Linked DNA regions of Homo sapiens: region 2 is linked to region 1. The links come from fine-mapping of genetic effects on gene expression. A gene starts in region 1. The other region holds a variant in brackets. All regions are shown on one strand. Distances are between the middles of the regions.

The links. PIP is the estimated chance that this variant, and not a neighbour inherited with it, causes the effect. A credible set is the group of variants that fine-mapping cannot tell apart.
Region 2: its variant is the best candidate, but not a certain one, in a credible set for the expression of FLT3 in spleen (GTEx, PIP 0.73).

The regions. Positions count from the first base shown.
Region 1 is chr13:28,097,683-28,102,682 of GRCh38, reverse strand. FLT3 (fms related receptor tyrosine kinase 3) reads left to right here and starts at 2,107. Exons shown (of 24, transcript NM_004119.3): 1 at 2,107-2,215. The coding sequence starts at 2,173. RefSeq lists an enhancer at 1,694-1,823 and silencers at 1,934-1,993, 2,114-2,273.
Region 2 is chr13:28,024,772-28,030,296 of GRCh38, reverse strand. FLT3 (fms related receptor tyrosine kinase 3) reads left to right here. Exons shown (of 24, transcript NM_004119.3): 16 at 2,009-2,119; 17 at 3,056-3,209; 18 at 5,354-5,436. Among named protein-coding and RNA genes, the nearest start is that of URAD, 39 kb to the right of the region's middle. The variant A/G (reference allele first, on the strand shown) is at 2,783.

The DNA.
Region 1 (5,000 bases):
GTGTGTTAGGTCTTGGCCATTGGAAGCTCGCTTTTCTCCCCATAACCAGCCTGTTTCATTGCTTTATCTCCTCATGTTTCACTTATTTCAGGCCATCTTCCTTCACTTCTGTTTCTGACCTAAGGTAGACACAACACTCTTTAAAAAAATTTTTAAACCCCCAGCAGCTACACAAAAACTTAAAAAATTTAAAATTGAGGTAAAATACACATACATAAAATTTACCATCTTAACTTTTTGTTTTTGTTTTTGTTTTTGAGACAGAGTCTCACTCTGTCACCCAGGCTGGAGTGCAGTGGTGTGATCTCAGCTCACTGCAGCCTCTGCCTCCCGGGTTCCAGTGATTCTCCTGCCTCAACCTCCCAGGTAGCTGGGATTACAGGCATGCGCCACTACGCCTGGCTAATTGTTGCATTTTTGTAGAGATGGGGTTTCACCATGTTGGCTAGGCTGGTCTCGAACTGCTGACCTCAGGTGATCTGCCCACCTCGGCCTCCCAAAGTGCTAGGATTACAGGCATGAGCCACCGCACCCAGCCTTAGCCATTTTTAAGTGTACAGTTTAGTAGCGTTAAGTACATTCACATTGTTGTGCAACCAGTCTCCAGAACTCTGCTCATCTTGCAAAACTGAAACTCTGTATCCATTAAACACTGGCTCCCCATTTCCCCCTGCCCCCAGCCCATGGTAACCACCATTTAACTTTCTGTCTTTATGAATTTGTAATGGGATACAGTATTGTATTTTTTGGGACTAGCTTATTTCACTTAGCATAATGTCAAGATTCATCCATATTTTAGCTGTATCAGAATTTCCCTCCTCTTTAAAGCTGAAAAATACTCAGTCGTATGTATATACTGCATTTTTGTTTATCATTCATCTGTTGTGGACATGGGTTACTTCTGCCTTTTGACTACTGTGAATAATGCTGCTTTCAACACGGGTGTACAGACATCTCTTCAAGACCCTGCTTTCAATTCTTTTGGCTACATGGCCAGAAATGGAATTGTTGGACCGTATTTTTTTTAATTTTTTGAGAAACCTCTATAGTGTTTTCCATAGTGGCTGCACCATGGTAGACACTTCTAAAGTTTCTGCCATACCCTAGGGGAAAGAATTATTGTACTGTAGACAACATCTAAGGAAAAGAACTGTATGGCCAAGAGTAAACAGTCAATTTTCATGCTTTATTAGAAAATAATTAAAATAATTAAGAGCGTGGAATTCCTAGAATTGGGAGAGACATTATGAACCATTTGGTCCATCCCTTTCCTTTACGATGAGTAAACAGAGGTTTGTGGAGGTCAAACGGCTAGTTAAGTAAGGGAAGAACCAGAACTGGCATCCAGAGCTTTCCAATCCTCAACTTATTGCAAAGAAAATAATAATAATTTTCAACTCGAAAAATTATGCGATGAAGAACAAGAACTATTGAGCGGATGATTCGCAACATCCTCTGGGATGTATTTTCTGTGTGTTTTGTTTTGAAGGCTGTTTGTTAACCTCCCTAATTGCCTTGGTTGACATTGAAACCCTGCCTGTTTTTCTTGATCCCGCCGCTGACTGGGTCCTGAGCATCCTAGGAGATGGAGGCAGAGACAAAGGAAATCAGTCCACAATTAAGAATGGAATGGTTCTTAATGGAATGCTCGCCTGTGCGCTGGCGGGAGTTGCCAGCGTGCCGAGCGGATTCAGCGCCTTTCTCAGGGCCTCAAAGATCCCAGCGCACTAGGAGGGTGGTTTGTGGCTCCCTGCAGTCCCCACGCCCCGGATCCAAACGACAGAGTTCGGGGACTCACAGGGGCAGCAAGGCGGCAGAGCCGCGGAGCCAGTGCAACTTCTCCGGCGGGACCGCGCCCAATCTTCCCCGCCGCAGTCGGGGAGCCCCGGGGGCCGCCGAGCACAGGCTGCGGACCGCGGCGGGCACGTGGGCTCGGCTGCAGCGCTGCGCCAGGCACCGGCTGCTCGGCTCTGCCCAACCTCTCCGCTCCCGCCTCGGTCCCTGCCTCTGGGGAGAGGGTTCCTCCCCCCTTCCACTTTGCACCAGTCCGAGGGAATTTGCGGTCGGTGACGCGCATCCTTAAGAGAGCCACCTGCAGCGCGAGGCGCGCCGCTCCAGGCGGCATCGCAGGGCTGGGCCGGCGCGGCCTGGGGACCCCGGGCTCCGGAGGCCATGCCGGCGTTGGCGCGCGACGGCGGCCAGCTGCCGCTGCTCGGTAAGGCCCCGCTCGCTCGCTCGCAGCCCCTCGCGGTCCCTCAGCCCCCACCCCGCAGTGTGGACCCGGGCGCGCGCCTCCTCCGGCCCAGCCGCCTCGCTCCTCCCCGCGCTCGCTCCTTCCATTGCCTCCCGCGCCCCTCCCCTCTTTCGCGCCCTCCGGACTCGCCCACTACTTGCCTGCGGCCCCGGCGTTTCCCACCCCGCGTCCTCTTCCCTCTTCTCCGAAGTCTCTCCTCTGGCTCGGGCCGCGGTCCCGAGTGGCGGCCCGGACTTCGCAGACGGCCTCGCCGAGGCGCTGCGCCGGGTCTGGGGCAGCTCGGCCCGCGCGCTCGGGTGCTGGGCCGTCCGTGGGAGTCTGCGGCCGCGAACTCGGCGCCAGGTGGCCAAGGACCTCTCCTGGCCCGGCCCTTGGATACTGTAGACACCTGGGTGTCGTCTTTAACTCTTCTTTTGAGGTTTTGATTTATGGAGGGAACTCTGATGGGAAAATGCGTCCGCGTTCTCCCCTAGAGCGAGTCATCCTCAATAACGATACCCCCCAGCCCCGCCGAATTTTGGTTGGATCAACGAATAGTTTACCTAGGAAATATTATGCAAACAGATTTACATATTAAAATACTAGCTGTCCCTTTCTTCTAGTCTCTTCTTATCCTGGCATAAACCCCAAAGGGGTTTTCAAGGACTCCGAGGACTGTCCCCAAAGAATCTGCTGGGTAGCATAGTTGTTATTGAAAAAAAAAATCTTCCCATCGGTTCGCGTCAGCTTTCTATTTGGAAAGATGAGAGGACTGAATCGAATTTGGGTTGAAGGCGACAGAGTTCTGGGTGCCCGGCAGCTCCGGTCCCTGTCCTAGGTCTGCAACCTTGGGACTGACACTCACCTCCCCCGGCCTCCGCGTCCTCATCTGTGCAGTGAGGGAGTCCGTCCGAGTCCCCTTCAGCTCTGAAATGCTAGGACTTGAAGTCTCTGTGGTAAATAGAGAAAATGCTTGCAATATAGAAGTGCAGGAATTATATCCAATAGCTTTTGTTACAAATAATTCTGAAATATAAAAAGTAAAAAATGGAAATCGGGGGAAAAGAGTTGAAAAACAAAGACATTTTAGTTCTTAAATAGTTATCTTTACTAGTTAGTAAATCTGTAATTTCAAATGTGTAGTACAATATGTTTTCCAGATTCCGTTAATACAAAATGTTAGCTTTCTATTATGTATGATATTAAGTAGTAAGTGCATTTTTCAGAAGCATAATGGGCTTTCTAAAGGTATAAGCATCAATACTTGCAACGATATTTAAGCTGCATGGAATTCTTTTCTATTTAGGAAAGAATTCAGAAATTTCTATGTCTCTCTCTCCAGATATTTCTAAATGAAGTATAATTGGCACACAGTAAATATGCACACATCTTAAGAGTACAATTTCATTAGTTTTCACATATGTACGTGCCCAAATAACCACGATCAGACTGAGATATAGAGCAATTCTAGCTCCACCCTCTCTGTCAGTACCCCCTCCCCAGGTAGCCACTATTCTGACTTCTGATGCCATGGATTGCTTTTGCCTATGTTTGAACTTCATGTAAACCAAACCATCATCGTGTGCTCTTTTATGTCCACCTTCTTTTACTCAACATTATAATAATAAGATTCAACCTTGTTCTCTGTAGCAGTGTTTTTTTTTTTAATTGCTGGTACCATTCCGTGGTATGAATAGATCTTATAATTTATTTTATCCATTATGTTCACGAAGCACATGGAAGTTGTTCCAATTTTGTGTAATTATGCATAGCACTGCTGTGAACATTGTTTTATATATGGTGGACATAAACACCAGTATAAAGGATTATGCCCACAAGTAGAATTCCTGGATCATAGGGAAGGGATATGTTCAGGTTTGGTAGATACCGTCAAACGGTTTTCCACAGTGGTTACACCAATTTCCACTCCCACTAGCAGTGTATGGCAGTTCCAGTTCCTCACATCTTTGCCAATACTTTGTATTATGGATTTTCTTGAATAAAGAAGGATAAAGTGAGAAGCTTAAACATGAGAACTTTAAAATGGTTAATAGCCTTAAATTCTTTGAATTAGAACATGGGATCCCAATTTCCCTTATATTGTAAACACTACTTTTTTTTTTTTTTTTTTTTTTGAGACGGAGTCTTGCTCTGTCACCCAGGCTGGAGTGTAGTGGCGCGATCTCAGCTCACTGCAACCTCCGCCTCCCAGGTTCAAGCGATTCTCCTGCCTCAGCCTCCTGAGTAGCTGGGATTACAGGTGCGTGCCACCGCACCCAGCTAATTTTTGTATTTTTAGTAGAGACGAGGTTTCACCATGTTGGCCAGGCTGGTCTCGAACTCCTGACCTTAGGCGATCCACCCACCTCAGCCTCCCAAAGCGCTGGGATTACAGGTATGAGCCACCACACCCGGCCATGCCCAGACTTCTATTCATCATTTATGAATAATGATGAAGCTTTCTAAGTGGCATTTGAAGGAGAGGAACATGTTCCCAATGGGCTTTTCTGCATTATCTGCTGATACTGGACAGAGAGAAGTATTTCAATATTTTAAGAGCTATGATACTACCTTTTTCATTAGTGTTAAAAAAAATTCGTATTCAAAGCCTTGAACTGCACATTTGAGTTGCCATTCTTTGCTCTTGTTGCTTATCTTAGTTTATTTGCCTTCTTGGAAACTCCTAGCCCAAGGGGGAATGATTCAGGAGAAAGTGGAGGGAAGGGACACTCAGCAAAGCTTGGTTTGGATTGGATGTGAGCCCAGA
Region 2 (5,525 bases), 73 kb after region 1:
CCGAATCCCTGTCCAGCGTGAAGCTGAAGACATGATGTATTAGGGGGTCCCAGTGCCCACAGGAAATCCCACCCCCAAGCTAAAATCTTGGAAACAAGGATACCCCTGAGAGCTTGCCCAAACCAAAATAGAGGATGTCAGCACCGGAGAAGCCACTATAAAGGTTAGGATGCCTTCCTGGACAAAATAATGGAACCTGGCAATCGAACCAAATCTTCACTGAATGTAAAGAAGAGTTACTATATCTGGAAGAAAAAGTCTGTTCACAGAGGGGTGGTGCCTGGAGCCTGGAGAGGGAAGTCCAGAGACCCTGCCCTTGCCCCTGTGGCTGCCCGGGCTGCCCTGACCAACTGCACATGAGCCGCAATGACGGGAGCCCTTGGATTCCATAGTGACTTTCCTCACACTGTGCTTCTAAGTCAGCTTATAAGTACAGTTTGCTGAGCTATCTGGAATTTTCCCTAGAGAGAGAATGCATTGGCCAACCAATATGTTCTAGCCTGCTTGGCAGTTTTATTTCTCAATGTCAATTAATGGGTCTCTTGAGCACCTGATAGTGGGAATTAGTCCTCTTTGACCTTCTCCCATTGGACTTGCTGGCAAATCTAATGTTCTAGACCTGAGGGCCACAGGCTAGAGTCAACCATGCTCACGACACTGTTATCTCTCTCTGACTACAACAGATCCAAGAGTTCAAACAAACAAACAAAAAGGACGTTTCTCCCTTCTGTTAACTTGTACTGAGGAGGAAAAGCATGTGTTATTATTTTGTTTGTTTGTTTTGAGGGCCAACTGTAAGGATTTTTATTTTGGTAGGTAGAGGAAAGTCCTGTTGAAAGGTGCATTACCAGATTCAACATTTATACTATAGTCTTTGTTTTGTTTTGTTTTGTTTTGTTTTTGAGACAGAGTCTCGCTCTGTCACCCAGGCTGGAGTGGTGCAGGGGCTCAATCTCGGCTCACTGCAACCTCTGCCTCCCCAGTTCAAGGGATTCTTTTGCCTCATCCTCCTGAGTAGCTGGAATTACAGGTACGCACCGGCACGCCCGGCTAATTTTTTGTATGTTTAGTAGAGACAGGGTTTCACCATGTTGGCCAGGTTGGTCTTCAACTCCTGACCTTAAGTGATCCACCCGCCTTGGCCTCCCAAAGTGTTGGGATTACAGGTGTGAGCCACTGCGCCCAGCCCTATACTACAGTCTGAATTCTGCCTTAGGCTGGGCATGGTGGCTCATGCCTGTATTCCCAGCACTTTGGGAGGCGGAGTTGGGAGGATTGCTTGAATCTAGGAGTTCAAGACCAGCCTGGGCAACATGGTGAGACCCCATCTCTACAAAAAATATAAAAATTAGCTGGGCATGATGGCCTGTGCTTGTAGTACCAGTAACTTGGAGGGCTGAGGTAGGAGGATCACTTGAGCCCAGGAGGCAGAGGCTACAGTAAGCTGAGATCATGTCACTACACTCCAGCCTGGGTGACAGAGTGAGATACTGTGTCAAAAAAAAAGAAAGAAAGAAAAGGAAAAAAAAAAAAGAAAAAGGAGAAATTCTGTCTTAAAACACAGGATATTGTTTGTTTGTTTATTTATTTATTTATTTTAAGATGGAGTTTCACTCTTGTTGCCCAGGCTGGAGTGCAATGGTGCAGTCTCAGCTAATTGCAACCTCTGCCTCCCACATTCAAGCGATTCTCCTGCCTCATCCTCCCAAGTAGCTGGGATTACAGGTGCCTGCCACCACGCCTGGCTAATTTTTGTATTTTTAGTAGAGACGAGGTTTCACCATATTGGCCAGGCCAGTCTTGAACTTCTGACCTCAAGTGATCCACCCACCTCGGCCTCCCAAAGTGCTGGGATTACAGGCATGACCCACCATGCCTGGCTTCTCTCATAATTTTGAATTTAAATAAATAATGCAGATTGACTCTGAGCTGAGAAAAATTTTATTTAATGACATAAAATTCGTATTTTACTTGAGTTTTACATTTTTAATGCTCCTTTCTTTGACAGAAAAAGCAGACAGCTCTGAAAGAGAGGCACTCATGTCAGAACTCAAGATGATGACCCAGCTGGGAAGCCACGAGAATATTGTGAACCTGCTGGGGGCGTGCACACTGTCAGGTAACCCACTTCCACGAAAATCACCTCATCAAAAAGACTGTAGCTTGATGACAAAGAGGATGTTTGCTCTCTCTCTCTCTCTCTCTCTTTTTAATTCTTTGTCTTTTCTCAGTCACAGTGTGAACTCTCAAACCCAAGTGGAATTAGACACTGAGCACTCTATAAATCAGAGGGGTCAAAATAAAGAATGCCTCATTCATCTGCTTTATCGTGATATATTGCATAATTCTCACCTGCTTAAAAACAACAACAACAACAACATTGCAAGTACATTTGGTGGTGTCTGTGCTTCTCTCCCAGCTTGGAAGCTGGTGCACAGGCGTGGTGAGAGTGGTTACAGAGCCTGGCCACTGCCCCAGTTGGGCTGCCGTCAAATACGGCACAGCCTAGCTAGGATATCAGACTTTACTTTCCCAGAATTCTCTGGGGCATGCCCTCTGATCTTCTCTCTTCTGCCTAGAAATACCCAAATGATGTGCCCAAGGTTCATTCTTTCTGCAGCAGCAGGCCTGGGGCTGGTACTAAAAGAAAGGAAAAAGAGGAAAGTGAATCTGAGAGAGGACTGGGAATATATTTCTCCCTCCTCAAGCAAACAGCAAATCAGCATATAGTTACCAAGTGTTCACCTATAATACACAGCTAGAACATTACTTTCAGTTGCCA[A/G]CTGGAGAATCCAGGAGGCCAGTGGTATTGGTGAGGCCACACATACAAAAAAGGGCCACAGAGAATGTCAAGAAGATGCTGCTTTCCAAAGAAATTTGAGCAAAAGCTGAAACTGAATTTAAAGTATAAGAAGAGCTAGGCTCAGAAAAAGTTGTACTGTCCCCAAGTCAGCAGAGAACCAAGCCCTCCTAAGAGTATGTTGTCTGCTACATAGACTTCTGAAATAACAGTTTGCTTTGTGTATGCCTATAATTGAAACTGTAACTATTTCAGGACCAATTTACTTGATTTTTGAATACTGTTGCTATGGTGATCTTCTCAACTATCTAAGAAGTAAAAGAGAAAAATTTCACAGGACTTGGACAGAGATTTTCAAGGAACACAATTTCAGTTTTTACCCCACTTTCCAATCACATCCAAATTCCAGGTAAGAGGCTGGGTCAGGGTTTCGTAATTACACATCATAGAACGTAGGCAAAGTGTGCTGTTCAAACACACTTCGTTGACCAGTTTCTAAAGGCACCGTGAAGTCTGTGGGTCCTGCAACCTAGAGATTTCCTGAATCTTTGCTATAGTTTCCCTGTTGACATGGAACGAGTCCTGTCCCTTTCCTTCAGTACAGGTACTATAGCTGAGCTAGTCTCTCTCCACCCATGCCTGCATCACACCATAGACGCCTATTTGGTTTGGGGAAAGGTGCATTATTCGGTCTTTCAGGACACCTGGTTGCCTCACAGGTATTGGTAGAAAGAATGAAGACTTTTTCCAAAGTCCTTAACATATGCAAAGAGAGCAGCTCGGGTCCTGGGACTATTGCGCAAAAGAACGCTGAACTCAAATTGGATTCTAAGATATTAGGATGGATTGATCGACACGTGATGGGGACACAGTAAAGTAGCAGTAACCTTGTCTCTGCTCTGTGTTTATCCTCCGCATCCATGGGGATCCTGAGAGATGCTTGGTCCTGCAGGGATTTATTGCTTTAGCGGGCATAAATGAGGGCTGTAGGAGTTTGCTGGATCTCCTCCTCATCCTTGAACTTTCTTGCTAATTACTTGAGCATCATGGCTTTGTAGCACCTTTCTCTGAATGGATTCCCAGGCATTCTGATGGAGGCATTCGTTGAGCCTTGGAGCATTCTTTTTTTTTTTTTTTTTTTTTTCAGACAGAGTTTCGCTCTGTTGCCTAGGCTGGAGTGGTGCAATGGTGTGATCTCGGCTCACTGCAACCTCCACATCCCAGGTTCAAGCGATTCTCTTGCCTCAGCCTCCCGAGTAGCTGAGATTACAGGCATGTGCCACCACGCCCAGCTAATTTTGTATTTTTAGTGGAGACAGGGTTTCACCATGTTGGTCAGGCTGGTGTTGAACTCCTGACCTCAGTTGATCCACCCACCTAGGCCCCGCAAAGTGCTGGAATTATAGGCATGAGCCACCGCACCTGGCTGAGCCTTGGCGCGTTCTTATTTCCCTCCCTGTATGGAAGTTCTCCCTTATTCTGAAGGGTATTTGTTTATTGGAGACTTTTTTCTTTACCAGGGGCTTTTTAGGGATACATTTGAGAGTCCCGGCTTTGTTTTCTTAGAATGTAAGTTTTAAGTGCAGGCCTCTGGCCTTCCAGGTCTGAGACACAGACCCAGTGTCTTAAAGCCACCAGGCCCCACGGAGATCCCCATGCACGTCCGTGTGCAGCTGCCCTTAACCTATGCATGCCCGTCACACCGTCCTCTCCTTTACACTCATTTCCCAGCTCATCGTCTAGAAATGAGAACTCTATAAAGCCACTCATATTCTGGAACAGAGGGGCTATCCTACTGAGTCCGATGTGTGTGACCAGTATCCACTGGTCAGTACTTAGCCCCTTTGATTCGTTCTGTTCACTGGAATATTAAATACACTGAAATTATTCCTTTTGGAATATTTGTGGTCTGAAAGCATGAAGCCATTTCCTAAAGATATGTAAATTGTAAATTGGGTTAAACTCGTATATTAGAATAAATTGAATCGTGATCTACTTATAATTCCTACAGAGCTCCTCAGGGAAGAATTTTTATATACCTTAAAAGAGATTTGTATTATTGCTATTTATTAATTTCACAGTAAAAAGAAATGAGCTTTACAAAGGCAAACTGGAAAAAAGAAGGATGGTGAAACGCTTACGGGACTCTCGGGAAGATCTGTATTATGTGAGGGAAAGTGGGCTGAGTTCAGAAACCAAAGAATGAGATCGATGTGAGTCCTGGTTCCACTCGAATCATATTTATCTCACTGTGCCTAATTTCTCTTTTATAAAATGCCACCCATCTCATAGGTTGTGGCAAGGATTGAGTGAGGTCCTTTTTGAACTGTAAGATTCTATATGGAAAACAGGGATTACTTTTATCTTAGACTGGCAAGCCCAGTTACACAGATGTTTTTAATGTACACAAAAAATGGACAAATGGATGGTGTGCTTTTAATTTAAAAGTCAATTTATAACTGGAATCCATTTATTTGATGAATTACATTTTTAAAATAAAATGTCTGCTGAGAAGAATAATGTAAATAATGAAAAAACAAAATTTTTTAATAGCATGCCTGGTTCAAGAGAAGTTCAGATACACCCGGACTCGGATCAAATCTCAGGGCTTCATGGGAATTCATTTCACTCTGAAGGTAATATTTTATTCTAAGTAGTAGCACTTTAAAATGGAAATGAATGCAAAAGTTTTATGTTAGCTATTTTTTAAAAGTGTGTAAACACA